Linked DNA regions of Homo sapiens: region 1 is linked to region 2. Evidence: fine-mapped expression QTL. A gene starts in region 2. The other region holds a variant in brackets. All regions are shown on one strand. Distances are from middle to middle.

Region 1 (9,472 bases), 23 kb after region 2:
TTCACCATGTTGGCCAGGATGGTTTTGATCTCTTGACCTCGTGATCCGCCCGCCTCAGCCTCCCAAAGTGCTTGGATTACAGGCGTGAACCACTGTGCCCGGCTAGCACTATTCTTTTAAAAATTAATATATTATAAATAAGGCTAAAGTCATTTTTTATTTGAATTCCCCAAATCCTAGTACCCTCCCCTGTGCCAGAAGTAGCCGTTGTTTTAAGTTTGATGTGCACAATTCACTACAGTAAACAGTATATACATTGTTCTACAACTTGCTTTTTCCCTTCCACACTTTGTCTTGTTATGCTGTGTTGCATACTCATCTAATTAATACATTTCAGCAGCTTTAAGAAAAAATACAATATCAATATAGCACAATTTATTAAAGCTATTCCCCTATGGATGTCAATTGGGTTGTATAGAGTTTACATTGTTTCATGTGACTTTTTCACATAATAGGGAAGACATTTCTATACACAAAATTGATCAAAAAAGCTCAATGTTTAACACAGAGAAAAAAATTACATTTGCAGTCAATACTTTTGTATCTATTCTGCAATAAAAACTTTTATATCCTTTGGCATCACCTAAAACATATGGTGAGGGAATGCCCTCTTATTCTAAAATTCTGTGATTCTCTAAGTATTCCCAATAGGCTATGCCAAGTTGTTTTTTGTTTTCTTATCATACACTGGATAGGTAGTGGGTTTTGTTTATTTGTTTGAAATAGGCCGGGCGCGGTGGCTCAAGCCTGTAATCTCAGCACTTTGGGAGGCCGAGGCGGGCGGATCATGAGGTTAGGAGATCGAGACCATCCTGGCTAACACGGTGAAACCCCGTCTCTACTAAAAATACAGAAAATTTGCTGGGCATGGTGGCGGGCGCCTGTAGTCCCAGCTACTCGTGAGGCTGAGGCAGGAAGGAGAATGGTGTGAACCCGGGAGGCGGAGCTTGCAGTGAGGTGAGACTGCGCCACTGCACTCCAGCCTGGGTGACAGAGTGAGACTCCATCTCAAAAAAAAAAAAAAAAAAAAGAATAAGGGTGTTTAACATTAAATTTCTTGGCATTTTTACAATATAAGTCCCTTATCTGTCCCCAAAATATTTGATCACATTTATTAAACATAAATATCTCTTTCATGTATGTGTGGATCTTGAATAGAAGGGTATGTTTCATGTAAAGGTTGGTATGATGTTCAACAGACAGCATAGAGTTCAATATACACTAGAGAGTGAGATGACCCATAAACTGAACCAGAGCTAGTAGTAATGAACATATAAACATGAGCACATGTAGAGTTCAAAGAAATCTGAGGGATTGCTTTGAATTTCTCTAGAGCCTGGAATAATCATTAAAGTCACTCTCAGTATAATCTCATGGGCAAGGAAAACTTCAATTGCTCATGGTGTACACAAGTCTTTACTGGGTTAGGTGCAGTGGTTCAAACCTGTAATCCCAGCATTTTGGGAGGCCAAGACAGGAGGATCACTTGAGCCCAGGAATTTGAGACCAGCCTGGGCAACATAGTAAGACCTCATCTCTACAAATAATTTTTTTAAGATTACCTGACTGTGGTGGTGTGCATCTGTAGTCCCAGCTACTCAGGTGAGGTGGGAGGAGTGGTTGAGCTCAGAGGTCAAGGCTGCAGTGAGCTGTGATGGCAACACTATACCCCAGCCTGGGCAACAGGGTAAGACCCTGTCTCCAAAAAAAAAAAAAAAAGACTTTACTAAAGGCTAGGCAATAACGAATAACCAAAGGGAAATAAACACAACATGTAACACCAAACTAGATTGTCTGGTTGTTACATGACTGTAATAGGTCTGTTGCCTGATGTGCATGGTAAGCCAATTTGCCAAGACACCAGGTTGCAGCAAAGAAAGAGTTTTAATTGTAGGGCTGCCATATGAGGAGATGGAAGGAAACTTCAAACTCCCTGAGGAGTTTGGGGCTAGAGTTTATAAGGGTTTTGGAGTGAGCCAAGGAGTGACGATTGTTGCTTGGTTGAAGAGTACAAGATGAAGTCATGGTACAAGATGAAGAAATGATATTCTCATGTTGATGCTGATTGAGTTACCCTATGAGGGTCTTGAACTGCTTGGCATCAGCTGTTCTGCTGGAATTCAGGATCTGCTTAAGCAATTCTTAAAGTGTTAGGACTCTAATGTCAGAAATCATATCTATCTTAAACAAAAGCTGTATGATTCTAGGGCCAGGAATCCTATTTATAGGTATAATGGGGGTGCAGATGGCCAGTATCTAGTGTGATATGACTTTCAGTAACAAGGAAGTGGGTCAACATGCAGACTGATTACCGCTTGATTATAATTATTTCTGTCCAGATTTCTTGTAAAGCCCCTGAGGGTGGTATATTAGTCTGTTTTCATGCTGCTGATAAAGACATGCCTGAGACTGGGAAGAAAAAGAGGTTTAATTGGACTTACACTTCCACATGGCTGGGGAGGCCTCAGAATCATGGCACGAGGTGAAAGGCACTTCTTACATGGTGGGAGTAAGACAAAAAATGAGGAAAAAGCAAAAGCGGAAACCCTGATAAACCCATTAGATCTCATGAGACTTATTCACTATCATGAGAATAGCACTGGAAAGACCAGCCCCCATGATTCAATTACCTCCTCCCACTGGGTCCCTCCCACAATATGTGGGAATTCTGGGAAATAAAATTCAAGTTGAGATTTGGGTGGGGACACAGCCAAACCATATCATTCCACCCCTGGCCCCTCCAAATCTCATGTCCTCACATTTCAAAACCAATCATGCCTTCCCAACAGTCCCCCAAACTTAACTTATTTCAGCATTAACCCAAAAGTCCACAGTCCAAAGTCTCATCTGAGACAAGGCAAGTAAGTCCTTTCCGCCTATGAGCCTGGAAAATCAAAAGCAAGCTAGTTACTTCCTGAATACAATGGGGGTACAGGTATTGGGTAAATACAGCCATTCCAAATGGAAGAAATTGGCCAAAACAAAGGGATTACAGGGCCCATGCAAGTCTGAAATCCAGTGGGGCAGTCAAATTTTAAAGCTCCAAAATGATCTCCTTTGACTCCAGGTCTCACATTGAGGTCATGCTGATGCAAGAGGTGGGCTCCCATGGTCTTGGGCAGCTCTGCCCCTGTAGCTTTTCAGGGTACAGCCTCCCTCCTGGCTGCTTTCACAGGCTGGCATTGAGTGTCTGCAGCTTTTCCAGGTGCACAGTGCAATCTGTCAGTGGATCTACCATTCTGGGGTCTGGAGGATGGTGGCCCTCTTCTCACAGCTCCACTAGGCAGTGCCCCAGTAGGGACTCTGTGTGGGGGCTCCAACCCCACATTTTCCTTCTGCACTGCCCTAGTAGAGGTTCTCCATGAGAGCCCCACCCCTGCAGCAAACTTCTGCCTGGGCGTCCAGGCATTTCCATACATCTTCTGAAATCTAGGCAGAGGTTCTCAAACCTCAATTCTTGACGTCTGTGAACCCGCACGCTCAAAACCATGTGGAAGCTGCTAAGGCTTGAGGCTTTCACCCTCTGAAGCCACAGACCAAGCTCTGTGTTGGCCCCTTTCAGCAATGTCTGGAGCAGCTGGGACACAGAGCACCAAGTCCCTAGGCTGCAACACAGCACAGAGACCCTGGGTCTGGCCCACTAAACCATTTTTCCCTCCTGGGCCTCCGGGCCTGTGATGGGAGGGGCTGCTGTGAAGTCTCTGACATCAACTGAGAGACATTTTCCTCATGATCTTGGGGATTAACATGAAGCTCTGTGCTACTTATGCAAATTTCTGCAGCTGGCTTGAATTTCTCCT[CA/C]AAAAAAAAATGGGTTTTTCTTTTCTGCATTGTCAGGCTGCAAATTTCCTGAACTTCTATGCTCTGTTTCTGTTTTAAAACAGAATGCTTTTAACAGCACCCAAGTCACGTTTTGAATGCTTTGCTGCTTAGAAATTTCTTCCACCAGGTACCCTAAATCATCTCTCTCAATTTCAAAGTTCCACAAATCTCTAGGGCAGGGGCAAAATGCCACCAGTCTCTGCTAAAACATAACAAGAGTCACCTTTGCTCCAGTTCCAACAAGTTCCTCATCTCCATCTGAGACCACGTCAGCCTGGACCTTATTGTTCATATCACTATCAGCCTTTTTTTCAAAGCCATTCAACAAGTCTCTAGGAGGTTCCAAACTTTCCCACATTTTCCTGTCTTCTTCTGAGCCCTCCAAACTGTTCCAACCTCTTTGTGTTACCCAGTTCCAAAGTCGCTTCCACATTTTTAGGTGTCTTTTCAGCAATGCCACACACTACTGGTCCCAATTTACTGTATTAGTCCACTTTCATGCTGCTTATAAGACATACCCTAGACTGGAAAGAAAAAGATGTTTAATTGGACTTACAATTCCAAATGGCTGGGGAGGCCTCAGAATCATGGTGGGAGGTGAAAGGCACTTCTTACATGGCAGTGAAAAGAGAAAAAATGATGAAAAAGCAAAAGCGGAAACCCCTGATAAACCCATCATATCTCATGAGACTTATTCACTATCATGAGAATAGCATGGGAAAGACCAGCCCCCATGATTAAGTTACCTTCCCCTGGGTCCCTCCCACAACACATGGGAATTCTGGGAGATACAATTCAAGTTGAGACTTGGGTGGGGACACAGCCAAGCCATATCAGGTGGCTTCAATAACTTGCTCACCAGAGCTCCCAATCCGCCATCCAGTTGCATTCATCTTAGATGTATCACTTAGGGGACTGAACCTGGACACCTATTGTTTTAGTTAAGAGGCTTTCCACCTCAATTAACAGAAAACCAACTCCACTCCTTAAACAGTGAAGGTGGCTTATATAACCAAATGTCTTGATATATGCAGACTTCAGGTACCATATAGTCATTGCCGGACAGGTTCTTCCTCTCCACTGCACAGACAAAATCAATCCACTGAGATGGCAGCACTGCAGTAGAGAAAGAGTTTAATTGACATGAGGCAAGCCCATGAGGGAGAACTGGGCTCAAATCAGTCTCTGAAGATTTGGAGGTTGGGAGTTTTTAGGGAGTAGGTGCTGCTGATTGGTTGGGGATGAAATCGTAGGGGTGTGGAAAATAGTCCTCATGGGCTGAGTCTGCCTCTGGGTGGGGCCACAGGATTCATTGAGTCATGAGTTCAGGTGGAGTCCATCTGAAAAACATCTCAAACTAATTATAGGTTCTGTAATAGTGATGTTATATAGGAGCAATTGGGAAGGTCACAAATCTTGTGACCTCTGGTCACATGACTCCTGAGCAGTAAGGGATTAGAAACTATGCCTACATTTTAGCAGAGTTCAGCACCCTCTCATAATCCGAAGCTTGTGGCTTTTTATTCGTTTTACAGATGCAGTTTAGTTTTGGGAAGGGCTGTTATTATCCCTGCTTTAAGGTTAAACTATAAACTAAATTCTCCCCATGGTTAGCTTGGCCCACACCCAGGAAAGACCGAGGATAGCTTGGAGGTCAGAAGCAAGATGGAATCAACTATGTCAGATTTCTCTTACTGTCATAATTTTGCAAAGGCAGTTTCAACATAATCAAAGTTCTAGCCTGATTTTCTTGCAGTGTTTGCGAGTCCATTCTCCACGTGTAGGTTTTGTTCTCAGGCTGGCTTCCCTCAAGGACACAAATTAAGCAACAGGTTTCTTTGCTTACATTCAATATGGAACAGTGAGATCTACTTTCCATTATTATCACTCAAATATAAAGAACTTTCCCAAAAGCTATTAGTAGCTCAAATTTTATTGGCCAACACTGAGGTACATTCCCATTCCTAAACCATTTGCTGGCCAGGGATGAGATTACATGGTTAGTTTACCTTAACCAGTCCTTACTTTGTGAGCTGAGGATGGTGTTAGCTTTCCCTAATCCCAAAGGTTGGATAAGGATGGATACCAGAACAAAATTGGGGATCTATGAGAAGGAAGGTGTGGGAAATTGATTACAGGTAGGCACCAAGAATATCCACTATATATATATTTTTTCTACCTTCTTTAAATTCTCACATTATTATTCCCTTGATTTTTGTGGTCCAACTGCACTGGCTTTCTTTTGGATCATCAAACATGCCTTGCTCCTTGTCACCCTAAGATCTTTGTTCAGACTATTTTCTTAGCCTGGAATTCTCTTCTCCCACTCTCTTTCCTGGTAAAATGCTACTCACTTAAAAGTCATTTCTTTCATAAAGCCTTCCCTCAGCCCCTTACTACATTATGTGCCTCTTCTTCCAACTCAAACTAACTTAAGCAAAAGGAGAATACAGTCAGTTTTCATTACGTGCAGTAGTTATGTTCTATCAAGTTGCCATAAACACTGCATTAGTGAATACTGAACCATTACTCCCAGAAGACTTAAAAGGTTAGGTTCCAGGGAGCCTCCGGTCACAATATTCTCATCAATGGATCAATACATAACCTTGTTTTATGTGTGTTTTGGCTTAAAGACATCTCATTTAATGCGTATTGTTGATTCATTAACACTGAACTACCAACATGCTAACTCATGCCTGAACAAAGCTTATCTAACCCATATATTTTCTCTGTAAGGCACATCTCAGCCTAGTATTCAGGAACGCTAACCAAAACAGCACTTTAGCACTAAGCTCCAGGGCCATTTTAAACAGTGAAAACAACGAAAAGCACAAAATGTGAAAAACGTGGCACTAAATAGATTGCAAAAAGGACATTTGTTTACAGTGTGAGAGGTGAAGCAAGACAGCAGACGTCTTGTTGAACCTCAGCTGGAAACATGCACATCAGGTGACTCAAATTTTTCACTACTCTGTACATACATGTCAGTGAATGATTGTGAAAGCACTGTTGGGGCTCAGAAAACAATACCCCATAGTATGGCACTGTGGCATGCTGAGTGCTTTGAACTGAAGTTGAACCAAGGTCTCACTGACTTTCTCCTGTGCTCTTGTCTCTTGTCCTTCTCTCCTGAAGAGCAAGAGGGAGCTCTCTCTGAATTTCCCTTACTTGCCTAAAAATGGATCCTCCAAAAGGGACTCATTTGTCCCCTCTCTGCAATCTCATTAGCTAGGGAAGATTAATTATATCACAGGAGAGGAGACTAAAGGTTGGTACCTTGCCCAGATAGACTTTGTCAAAAGTTGCCACCTATTCTTCTTCTTCCTGTATTTTTTTTTTTTTTTTTTTGAGATAGGGTCTCATTCCTATCACCCAGGCTGGAGTGCAGTGGCACTATTGTGGCTTACTGCAGCCTTGAGCTCCCACGCTGAAGGGGTCCTCCTGCCTCAGCCTCTTGAGTAGCTGGGACCATGGCATGTGCCTCCACACCCAGCTATTTTTTTTTTCTTTTTTTGTAGGCATGTGGGGTTTTTCCATGTTGCCCAAGCTGATCTCAAACTTCTGACCTCAAGCGATCTGGCTGCCTCAGCCCCAAATGCTGGGATTACAGACATGAGCCACTGCCCCCAGCCCAACTGTTCTGAGGGTTGCTACTTGAGATATTTTCTCTGTATAACAAGACAACTTTGTTCACTATAAATTTCCTCCTCTCACCCTCTCATAACCTGTCACCACCTCCCCACAGAAGCCTCAAGCCCCTATTTCCTTCTATAGCTCAGGATGCTATAAAAACTTTGACCATCTACCCCTTCTTTGAATCTTATAATTTGTGAGGCTCCCACGTGCATGCACATAATAAAACTGTATGCCTTTTCTCTTGTTAATCTGTATGCTGTCAGTTTATTCCAGAGACTCAAATTATCAAACCTTCAGAAAGTAGGGGGAAGGTTTAAAACTCCCTTATAGTTTCAAGAGTATTAATCTGGGGGTTACAAATACGCTTTAGTAGGTAAGTAAATTTGCAAATACAGAATCCATGAATAATGAGTGTGGTGGTTAATATTAGGGGTCAACTTGATTGAAGGATGCCTACATAACTGGTAAAGTATTGTTTCTGGGTGTGTCTGTGAGGGTGTTGCCAGAGGAGATTAACATTTGAGTCAGCGGACTGGGAGAGGAAGACCCACCCTCCATGTGGGTGGGCACCATCCAATTGGCTGCCAGAGAGGCTAGAACGAAGCAAGCAGAGGAAGGTGGGATAAGCTGGCTTGCTGAGTTTTCTAACTTTCATCTTTTTCCCATGCTGGATGCTTCCTGCCGTTGGACATCAGACTCCAGGTTCTTCGGGGACTCTTGGACTTACACCAGCGTTTTGCCGGGGGCTCTGTCGGCTGCACTGTCAGTTTCCCTACTTTTGAGACTTTTGGACTCGGACTGAGCCACTACTGGCTTCCTTCTTTCTCAGCTTGGAGACAGCCTATCATGGACTTCGCATTGTGATCGTGTGAGTCAATTCTCCTTAAGAAACTCCCTTTCATGTATACATCTACATCCATCCTATTAGTTCTGTCCCCCTGGAGAACCCTGACTAATACAATAAGAATCAATTGTATGTTGCTGGATATACCTGGAAAGTCCAAGGAGGTAAATCTGATTCCAGGAATGACTAGATCTGAGAGTTTCAGGTCTCTCTTTTTTCCATCCCTCTGTTGTCTCTTCATGGCTTTGTTCTTGAAGAGGTTCTCTCTACTCAGCAGCACAACAGCTACCAGTAGTCCCAAGTCTATGTAATTCTTAGTTTACCCCCAAGCCCATAAGATAAACCCTTTATCTCCCAAGCTCTATGTATTTAATCTAAGAGAATAGTCTGATTGGGCTTTCTTGTACCCATTCCCTCATCTAGGGCAGGTGCAAGCGTGTTAGCCCCACCTGAACTGCATGAACAGACTCCTTACTGCGAAGAGGGGCGCTGTAATCAAAAGAAAGGAAAAGGAGCACAGTTGAATCTAATTAACAGCTGTTAATTATACCTGGCACATTTTTAGAATTCCGTGAAATGAAAAATGAACATTCTTTAAAAAATAATTTAGTTTTTCAACCATTGTCCACTCCCACCCCAAGTAGTCCTGTTTGTATTGTTGCCATCTGTGTGTCCATGAGTACCCAATATTTGGCTCACACTTATAAGTGAGAACGCGGTATTTGGCTTTCTGTTCCTGCGTTAATTCACTTAGGATAATGGCTACATCCATGCTGCTGCAAAGGACATGATTTCATTTTTTTTTATGACTCCGTAATGTTTCTGTTGTGTATGTACCACATTTTCTTTATCCCGTCCACCACTGATGGGCACCTAGGTTGATCCCATGTCTTTGTTATTGTGAATAGTGCTGCGATGAACATATAGATGCATATGTCTTTTGGTAGAATGATTTATTTTCTTTTAGATAGATACCCAGTAATGGGATTGCTGGGTCAAATGGTACTTTTGTTTTCAGTTTTTTGAGAAATCTCCAAACTGCTTTGCACACTGGCTGAACTAATTTACATTCTCATCAACAGTGTATACATGCTCCCTTTTCTCTGCAGCCTTGTCAGCATCTGTTATTTTTTGACTTTTTAAGAATAGCTATTCTGACTGGTATGATAT
Region 2 (11,020 bases):
TTTCTTTTGCTGTGCAGAAGCTCTTTAGTTTAATTAGATCCCATTTGTCAATTTTGGCTTTTGTTGCCATTGCTTTTGGTGTTTTGGACATGAAGTCCTTGCCCACGCCTATGTCCTGAATGGTAATGCCTAGGTTTTCTTCTAGGGTTTTTATGGTTTTAGGTCTAACGTTTAAATCTTTAATCCATCTTGAATTGATTTTTGTATAAGGTGTAAGGAAGGGATCCAGTTTCAGCTTTCTACATATGGCTAGCCAGTTTTCCCAGCACCATTTATTAAATAGGGAATCCTTTCCCCATTGCTTGTTTTTCTCAGGTTTGTCAAAGATCAGATAGTTGTAGATATGTGGCATTATTTCTGAGGGCTCTGTTCTGTTCCATTGATCTATATCTCTGTTTTGGTACCAGTACCATGCTGTTTTGGTTACTGTAGCCTTGTAGTATAGTTTGAAGTCAGGTAGTGTGATGCCTCCAGCTTTGTTCTTTTGGCTTAGGATTGACTTGGCGATGCGGGCTCTTTTTTGGTTCCATATGAACTTTAAAGTAGTTTTTTCCAATTCTGTGAAGAAAGTCATTGCACACGTATGTTTATTGCGGCACTATTCACAATAGCAAAGACTTGGAACCAACCCAAATGTCCAACAATGATAGACTGGATTAAGAAAATGTGGCACATATACACCATGGAATACTATGCAGCCATAAAAAATGATGAGTTCATGTCCTTTGTAGGGACATGGATGAAATTGGAAACCATCATTCTCAGTAAACTATCGCAAGAACAAAAAACCAAACACCGCATATTCTCACTCATAGGTGGGAATTGAACAATGAGATCACTTGGACACAGGAAGGGGAATATCACACTCTGGGGACTGTGGTGGGGTCGGGGGAGGGGGGAGGGATAGCATTGGGAGATATACCTAATGCTAGATGACACGTTAGTGGGTGCAGCACACCAGCATGGCACATGTATACATATGTAACTAACCTGCGCAATGTGCACATGTACACTAAAACTTAGAGTATAATAAAAAAAAAAATTAAAAAAAAAAAAAAAAAAAGAAAAACTGAGGAAATGTTACAGATTAGAAGAGACTGCAAAGACATGCCACGTAAAAGCAATATATGTTCCCAGATAGGTTCTTAGACCAGAAAAGGAAAAAGAGAAATTATTAGTAACATTTATCAAAATTTGGATGGTATCTGTGGATTGAATGGCATTGTTGTATCAGTGTCCATTTCCTAGCTTGGAAGGGGGTATGGTTGTTATGCAGGAAAGTATTCTTGTTTTAGAAAAATACACACTAGAGTATTTAAAGATGATGGGGCATTGTGTCTGCAGCTTGCTCTCAAGTGGTTCAGAAAAAGATTAATGAAAATGGCAAAAAAAGGTGATGGAACAATTGCAGTGAAAAGGTTAACAGTTGCAGAATCTGTATGAGAAGAATACTGGAGCTCTTTGTGTTGTACTTTCAACTTTTCTGATGGTTTAAAATAATTTTAAAATAGGACGGGCGCGGTGCCTCACGCCTATAATCCCAGCACTTTGGAAGGCCGAGGCAGGCGGATCATCTGAGGTCAGGAGTTCGAGACCAGCCTGGCCAACATGGTAAAACCCCATCTCTACCAAAAATACAAAAATTAGCTGGGCGTGGTGGTGCGTGCCTATAATCCCAGCTACCCTGGAGGGTGATGCAGGAAAATCGCTGGAACCTGGTAGGCAGAGGGTGCAGTGAGCTGAGATCACGCCATTGCACTCCAGCCTGTGTGACAGAGCAAGACTCCGTCTCAAAAGTAAATACATAATTTAAAAATAAATTATTTTAAAAATACACTATATTTATTCACTTCTTTAGTCCCTGCTCCATGAAAAATACTTTACAATGATCCTGGAATTAAAGAGTTGCAAAAAAGCACTAATGGCAAAAACAATACATGAAAGATTGGGAGAAATTACTAATACAGCTGCTGCTTAACCTATGCTTCTCCTCCTTTGTGTGTAGTACATAAAGGTTTGGGAAGTTTGTTCCCAGACTGAGTAAGGGTCAGTTTCTGCTCAGCCTTAGTGGGTCCAGAAGTATCAGAATATGCCCTTCTTACCCTGCTACTTATGCACTGTTGTGGCTGCTGCCACCAGGGGCATCTATTATTCTGTATGTGCAAACTGCACTCTCCATACCGATAGCGGAGACTCTGAACTCTTTCCTCTTTATTTCCTTCCTTCTTTTCCTTGCTTCAGTCAGCCTTTCTTATAGGAAACAGAAATCATTCTAGATGCTTTAAGAAGAAAGAAGCTAATACAGGGGATTAGATGCTTACAAAATTTTTGGAAGAGCTGGAAGAGTAGGTGCTAGGCTGGACTTCTAGAGCAGGGGTCCCCAACCTTAGGAACCAGCCACACAGCAGGAGGTGAGTGGCAGGCCAGTGAGCAAAGCTTCATCTGTATTTACAGCCACTCCTCACCGATCACATTACCTCCGGAGCTCTGCTGCCTGTCAGATCAGCAGCGGCATTAGATTCTCATAAGAGCATGAACCCTATTGTGAACTGTCCATGCAAGCGATCTAGGTTGTGTACCCCTTATAAGAATCTAATGCCTGATGATTTGTCACTGTCTCCCTGTCTCCCATTACCGTCACCCACACTTGGGACCATCTAGTTGCAGGAAAACAAGCTCAGGGCTCCCACTAATTCTACATTACGGTGAGCTGTATAATTACTTCATTACATATCACAATGTAATCATAATAGAAGTAGAGTGCACCATACATGTAATGTGCTTGAATCATCCTGAAACCACTGGACCGCATCCCCGGTCCATGGAAAAACTATCTTCCATGAAACCGGTCCCTGGTGCCAAAACAGTTGGGGACTGCAGTTCTAGAAGATCAGAAACATGGCAGAACTGACCCATCCAGGAAGCTACTACCTCTCCCAGTCAGAAAGGTAGATGATCAGGAGTCATCACCAGAACTGATGACTTCAAGAATATAATCAATCTTGACGTCTGGAAGCCACTACCACCACTACTTCGGTGACTTCCTATCAATATGTACAAAGCAAGTTACCAGATACTGGAATACTTTCGCAGAAAATTTAGATGTTTACATGACTGTGCTTATCAGCAGAAAAAGCCAAAGAAACAAAACAATATGCTCCACCTCATTTCCACTCTGCAAATCTCAAGTAAGTGCACTTAACTGGGGAGCCTACTTTGGATCCAGTCCATTAATTTCAATGGAGTGTGGGAAACAGTGTTTAGTTTTCCCACCTCCATATCACAGGGAGGTGCATGGGAAGGAGGTGGGAAGTGATGCTCAATTCCAGTCCCCGCATCCACCACACTGCTCTCCAATAAAGATCAGTGCATGTTATTCTCTACTGTGAATCTCAAGTGACCAGAGCAAATCTGGTATAAATTATACTACACTTCCTCCTTTGTTTGTTAACACTTTAAAGGTAAAATCCTGCACATGCAGCCAGGGTGATCTCTTACTATAAGTCACTTATATGTGGAAGAAGAGCCAAAACTCACTGAAAAGTGAGAGAAAGGTATTATGATCTACATTTTAGCATACTTCAGTGCTAATATGCTCAGACACTGACTCAGCGACTATTCACTATATACTGATTAAATTACAATTCTTTCACTATCTTCTATCCCATTTCAAATTATTTTTCTCCCTGTTTTAGTTTCAAATTTAAAATAAGAATCCTCTCCTTTTGTTGTAATGAAAAAGCACTTTACTTTTAATCAACAGCAGAGGGCTGCCTATTTCCAGACTAGTCTGTGAGTTTTAGAAGTGACATAGCTGCAATGCTTTCTTCCTTTAACAAAAGGGGTGTTTGGGGGTGGGGAGGATGGGGGAGTGTGGTTTCAATCCTTCTTTTACTTTTGTGATAGACCAGAAAATAAATGGCAAATGATAGTGGAGAGGGCAACCTCCACAAGAAAAAAAGTGACTTTTATCTTTCCCTCAGTCCGAGGCTGAGACTGTCTTTTTTCCCTCTCTATCCCTGGTGCCTAGCACAATGCATGGTACAGAGCAAACAGTAAATGAATGTCTGTTGAATGAATAATCCAATTACAATGGAAGAAGTGGAAGACTCTTCATCATCATGTCTCTTATCTTCCTATCTCACTCCCTTCCTCAATGTGGACAAAATAGAGCGGGGACAGAAGCAAATTAGAGTCATGGAACTGACAGCCAGAACTCCCAGAATGTGAATGGGATAGGCCACAGTCCATGAAACTTCCTAGAAGTACAAATCCTTCAGCAAGTTCAGGAAATCCACATTTCAAAGGGTGGAGTTTCTGGCCTTTGGCCCCAGTTCCTTACCGACCACCCATTAACTGCCACAATTAGTTTTATTTCAGCTGGGCAGAGGGGTGATGATTGAAAACAGAGAAATTACTAAAGTAGATAATTAAAAACACTGATCATGTACCAAGAGGGAGAAAACAGATGGTGAATGATACCTTTGGCACTATTTTCTTTAAGATCAACTGGCTCTGCTGGAAGGCGGTGAGATGAGAAATCTGCAATTAGCAGGGCCTACCTGTGAATATAGCAGGGAAAGAAAGTCCAAGGTCAGCCTGATTGGGTTGGACACCACCTTGAAGTCAACTGCACTGGGCAGTCTACGTAGCAAGCAGGGAAATCTGACTGATAAGAAAGCGACCACAGGTGAAGTGCTGTATTATCTTCTGATCTCGTCTACAGAATAAAGGTGCCATTAGCTAGAATGATATCTTTAGCTGTAACACATTGACTATTGTTTCTGAGGGACTATGAGCCGCCACCATTTGTCCATCATCACTTTATTTCTCTTCTGGCAGCAATAGCTAGGAAATTAAATTCTAATCGCATCACGTAAGCATTCTCAAAATATCCTGAAATAACTGCATTAACAAATTGCCCACCCTTTATAAACAAAGAACTCTCAAGAGAAGTGTAAAATGTTTGACGACACCAAGGTACTAAGAGAAGGAACTATACAACTTAAATATTACAATACTTAAGCAAGCAGTATAAATTAGGTTGATGGATTTTCAGTTAACTGGGTCTCATCTTGATAAAAGGTACATGTGGCAGCTTAGTCAGCCAACAAGAAAGCAAAAAACTTGATTTTTTTCACTCGGAACCAGTCACTGTTAGACTACATGCAGCCTTTTCATCTCCCACCCATTTGCATTTTTGAGACAATCTCCAAGAACACACAGAAGCCACATATCATTTACGACGGAACAACCTTTCCAAATGGTCGTACAATATTTTTAATAAGCATAGGCATAATCAGCATTAGTTATTTAGCTGAAAAGAAACAGCTTTGCCTTCTTCAAATCCCAGAGCTTAATCTAGTTTTCAAAGGGAACAGATGTGGTAACTTCTTTATAAAGTATTTATACTTTTTTGGCTTCACTTTTTAACATCAACGACGACCGGTGAAATAAAGCATGAACTTCTCACACTAGACACTTGTTGCTAAAGAGGAGGAGGAAAATTTATGTTCCTGCTCTCCCATCCCTGTCTCTAGTTAGGGGATTAAAAAGGATTTCAGATAAAGAAGAAAAAAACAAACCAGCGAATGACAATTCACTTGGAACTCTCCAGACCGAAGTCCGTAAAGTTAAGTCGGCCCGGCCTCCGCCAGAGCAAGCAAATCAACAGCGGGGATGCTGCGACCGTCTCCCAACGCCTGGGAGCTCCGCACACCCGGCGGGGGTGGCAGGAAGGGGCTGGCGCGGTGATGTGGGTCCCCCGCCGACCGCCTAGCCCCCTCCTCAACACTTCCTGAAGGAAACTGACAAGTAAGGCGGCGGCCGCTCCGGGAAGGGGCGGGTGTGGACCCGACAAGCTTGCTCCCTCCAGCGAGCCCCCAGCGCCCGCGCGCCGAGCCGCCCCCACAGTCCCCGCGGCGCCTCGCGCGCTCCCCAGGCTCGCGCCGAGGGAGGAGGGGCTGACAGCAGAGCCTCCGGTCGTGGCCGCCGCCGCTACCTCCCCGGGTCCGGCTGCTGAATAACCCGAAGGGAAGCCCGCCCCGCAGCCCCGCGGTCCCCGCACCTCGTCCTCCAGGAGCCCGAACACCTCCACCGCGCAAGTTGCCATTTCCGAACGCTTCCAGCAAACCGGACGCGCTCGCCCCCGCCCAGGGCAGGCAACTGTGGAGGAGGAGGAGGAGAAGCGGGAGGAGGCGGGGAAGAGTTGGAGGAAGAGGAGGAGGCGCTCCCTCAGCGACAGCAGCGCCTCCCGCGGCGAGCGGGCACTAGCGGCACCCGGCAGCGCGGCGGGAAAAGGCCGGCGGCGCGCGCTCCTGGGGCTGGGCGGGGGCGCGCGTGGCGGGGCTCGGGGAGTGGGGAGGGCGTGCGGCGGGGCTCGGGTGGGATGAGCGCGCGCGGCGGGGACCATGGCGTGGGGAGCGCGCGTGGCGGGGCGCGCCCTCGGTCCCTTCCCGGGAGGTGGGTGGTTGACGGGCCCGCCGGGGAGCCAGGGAGCGCCGGGAAGCGCCGGGAAGCCAAGCTGCAGTGTTCCTCAGCAACAAGTCTCGCTGAGATCCGACCCAGAGTTCGGCCTCTGACTAGACGCCTGGGAATCCGTGAGCTTAATCCCCGCTTAAATCCCAAACGGAAAATCATAGCGCTTTCTTGTCGGTTAAGGGTGTCATTCCCATAAGAAGCTGGACCTGGGGACCGCCAGGGAAAGCCTGAGCGTGGCAGCAAATGGGGAGGCCTGGAGGGATCGCAGCAGTCTTGGACTCGGGATCTGAAATTCTCTCCCTAGGATTTGTAAACAGTGCCAGTTCCTAAGCTATTTGTTGTCCTATGGTCTGTCCATCTTTAAATCCCACCAGTAACAATCCAATCTCCAGGCTGACCCTCTAAACCTGCTTTAGCTGGGCGTTGATCCGCAGCACCACCAGAAGGCAGTGACGAAGAGGGAAAAATAAAGTGAACTAGGACCTCCTGTAGAATAACTCCTCCTGTGGAATAACTCCTCCTGTGGAATAAGGTTATGGAATAATCATGCTTTTTAATATTCCTGTCTGATGGGCTTTATAATTCCATAATTACAGGAAGACCTCCACCAAATAAGGCATCCATAAAAGAGTCTGGGGAGAATTATGAACACCCAGGCCACAATTTATATCATGTTGTTTTTATACATTTGCAGAAATTTGCAGAATTCTGCAATCTCAAAATCTAATTTTTATTTTCCTCAATGATTTCAGAATAACTCTGATTTATTTTTAACAGTTTAAGATGCTACGTGGGAACAAGGCTATAGCCCATATTACTGGTTTGTTACGTAAGATTTTTCTCGTACTTGGCCGGGCGCGGTGGCTCACGCCTGTAATCCCAGCACTTTGGGAAACCTAAGGCGGTGAATCACCTTAGGTCAGGAGTTCGAGCCCAACCTGGCCAACATAGTAAAACCCTGTCTCTACTAAAAACACAAAAATTAGCTGGGCGTGGTGGCGGGCGCCTGGAGTCCCAGCTGCTTGGGTGGCTGAGGCAAGGGAATCGCTTGAGCTTGGGAGGAGGAGGTTACAGTGAGCCAAGATTGCGCCGTTGCACTCCAGCCTGGGCGACAGAACAAGACTCCACCTCAATTGTCGTACTTTATGATTGGTAGGATCCATTTCATTCATATAATATGTATCAAAATTCTGTTAATACACAATTCAGATTTTATCCGTATTAGGGGGAAAGAGATGGCACTTAATCAAACATGACTACAAAATTACAGAATGGTCAGGAATTGTTGGCTTACCTAAATCGAAAAAGCCATGAGAGCATTAATTTGTTTTTTAAGTTGTCACATATCTGTGGGATTTGTGGGTTAAGAATAAAATAATCTGAAAATATTGTGTGCCCTTCTATTTTGCGAATATTTCCCTCATCTCTCATGATACACATTTTTATGTTTAATTTTAAGTTAGTTAAGTCATTTGAATTTAAGTTAATTCAGTGTCATTTCAGGGCACAATTACAAACGTGTAAAAACAGCTTCCGTTACTGCTACTAAAATTTAATGAATATATGAGAAGTATACACAGCCTAAAACTGGTAATTAAAAAAAAAAAAATCAGTAAATCCCCAAGGGATTATAAAGTAAAGCAAATTGGCCATTTGATGTATCCAATAGGTATTAGTGATGATACTTCTAAAGACCACTGATTTGACTCATGATTTCTTATTCTGTCTTTCCGAATATGAAATCATGAAGAATTAAACAGCTACCAATACAAGATGAACTAGAGTAATTATTGTATCCCGGTCAACAGCTAGGAGGGGCACCTGAAATTAAAGGAAGCTCAAATCGGGATGGTGATATCAGCTGGTGGTCCAATAACCAACCACCACTGAGAAAGCTGTTTAGAATGAAGAACTCCTCTACATATCACTCAACTGCGCAGAACTCTCATGAAGGCGTTTTGTCTACCTAGGCTGCCTTCAATTAGGTTCATGTTGATTTGGTTTGAGTGTGTGTATAACCATGTGAGGCACGTGTGAAGAATGTGACATGGTGCATAACAATTGATTCTGTGCCTCATACCTGTGCTAGGGATCATCCCAAGCCAAAATCCAGGCAATTCTAGCAACCTCCAATAGCATCACCCCTTCTATCTCTTGTTCTTGAGTCTTTTCTCCCTTCAAATCTGCCTTTACATGAGCCTCCAAACTGATTAAGAAGCAAGAAATGAATGAAAACCAGTAAACCTGGTCTAGACTTTCTAGTAGTCTGTATACGTAAACCTCTTTAACTCTGCCTATAGATTTCACTGTGATGCAGAAATTGTTTCTAGTTTTTAAAATATCACCCCCTGGGATCAAAATTGGATGTGGAATGTAACAATATGAAAGGTAATGATACGAAATGCACTTTAATGTTGGTAATTAATTCCCTAAGGGATATAAAAAAGTCTTGTTCAGAAGTTCTCCTTTAATTCTCTCTTACTCTTAATATCCCCTGGCTGCTTCCTTTCTAATAGTTAATGTTTGAGATTTTTAAGGTTCATTTTTTCTTCCACTGGAAACTCCCTGGACCTCATCCATTGCCATTGCCATTACCATAGTTTCAGCTACTTTCTTCATAGAGCCCATCTCAGATCCAGAGCTCAGTAGTGCAAGAAATGTTTATTTGATTTTCTGAAATGAACTAAGTTTCTGCCTCCAGTAGTAGAATACATAGTCCCAATCAATTCATTGGTCTTGCCTGACCCTCTTTTTGCTAAGCTGGATTCTGACTTCTAACAGGCTGTTGTGCTCCCTCATCTTGGTGATAAAGGTTCTCATCACTCCCTCCTGGAATTAGTAGATGTATCTGTGTTCCCGCTGGCCTCTAGCTGTGGACATCTTTATCAAGTAGAATTACATTTGGCTGTTACCTAAACTAATAAGATTTAAAGATTCATGTTATATGGCTGTCATGTAAAAGTCTAGACAGTGGGCAGGGCAGGGTTAATATGGCTAGTTTGCTCTGCCAAAGGGTCAGAAATTCAGGCACTTCACAGCTCACTGCTCTGATGTTTGTAGGTGTGACCCTTATCCTCATAGTCCAGAGAGTGGCTCAAGCTTCAATCATTACGTCTATGTTCCAGGTTACAAGGCAGAGGAAGGAGTAAAGAAGAGAGTTCAGGTATCATGGTCATCTTTTAAAATGCCCTCCTCACCCCACAAGGGGTGGGAGGTAGTGAGAAAGACGGCCAGGTGCAAGGCAGTGGGACCCAGGTGTGTTCAAGGAAGGGTTTGCTTGGTGGACTGGTGATGGCAGAAATGGGAAATTAGTTACTTGTAGAGACAAGTGATCCAATAAGTGAATATATGAATGATAATGAGAACCACATTAGTCACTGTTGAAGAAGTTACAAGAATGGAAAGAGAAAACTTGAATGAGTCTTGTGTTGTTATAATGAAATTGGTGGTGTTGATATGAACTCAAAAGTTTTTAACATATATATATAGTATATAAATAAATGTAGATGTAAACCTCTGCTGCATACACACACACACACACACACACACACACACACACACAAATATTTTCTACATTTGTATTCTAAGAGGGCCTGGGAACAATGACACCCCAAAAGCAATGAGCATATCTTGCATCCATATTTTAACTTTTTACTAAAAGAAACCAGGGCTCCTTGGAAAAATGGCTGATTCCAGGACTAGGACAAGGCAAATAAAAGTTGAGCCTGAAACATCTTGTTATCCCAGAAAATAATGAAAGTAATGATGGAGACAGAATAAAAGGACACAGGAACCAACCTGAAAAAAGCTCCCACTGGCCAAAGATGGCCTAACTTGAGCACTAAAATAAATTATGATAGCAACAGATTATAATCCAATGAATAATTCTGGTACCATGTGTTCATTACAGATATAAATTATAATAAATGAGTACATTCAAAGTTCAATGAAAAATGAGATTTTTACAGGGTTCAACATATATTTCCAGAAAGTACTTAGTTACATAGATTAAAAGGCTGAAATATACCACCTTAATCAAATGATCAAAGTGAACATTTGATAAACCAAAATCTTGCAACCCATTGCTTTTCCTCCATAACTTGGATCTAATCATGAGAAAACAAATCCAATTTAAGGAACGTACTACAAAATATCTGCCCTGTAATCTTCAAAAGTGTCAAGGACATAGAAGTCAAGAAAGTTGGAGGAACTGTTCCAGACTGACAGATTAAAGACCCTGTATTATGGTTCCCTAGAGAAACAGAACCAATAGGATGCAGATATATAAAGAGATTTGTTATGGCTGGGCACGGTGGCTTACGCCTATAATCCCAGGTTTGGAGTGCAGTGGTGCTATCTTGGCTCACTGTAACCTCTGCCTCCTGGGTTCAGGTGATTCTCTTGCCTCAGTCTCCTGAGTAGCTGGGATTACTGGTATGTGCCACCATGCCTGGCTAATTTTTCTATTTTTAGTAGAGATAGCGTTTCACCATGTTGGCTAGGCTGGTTTTGAACACCTGGCCTCAAGTGATCTGCCTGC

The links. PIP is the estimated chance that this variant, and not a neighbour inherited with it, causes the effect.
Region 1: its variant is fine-mapped to the expression of NEDD4 in subcutaneous fat (FUSION, PIP 0.91).

What each region holds. Positions count from the first base shown.
Region 1 is chr15:56,011,243-56,020,714 of GRCh38, forward strand. No RefSeq gene overlaps it. Among named protein-coding and RNA genes, the nearest start is that of NEDD4, 22 kb to the left of the region's middle. The variant CA/C (reference allele first, on the strand shown) is at 3,801.
Region 2 is chr15:55,987,444-55,998,463 of GRCh38, forward strand. It overlaps NEDD4 (NEDD4 E3 ubiquitin protein ligase), which reads right to left and starts at 6,169. Exons shown (of 29, transcript NM_006154.4): 1 at 6,068-6,169. The coding sequence starts at 6,112. RefSeq lists an enhancer at 5,417-6,199 and silencers at 5,702-6,051, 6,292-6,391, 7,178-7,375.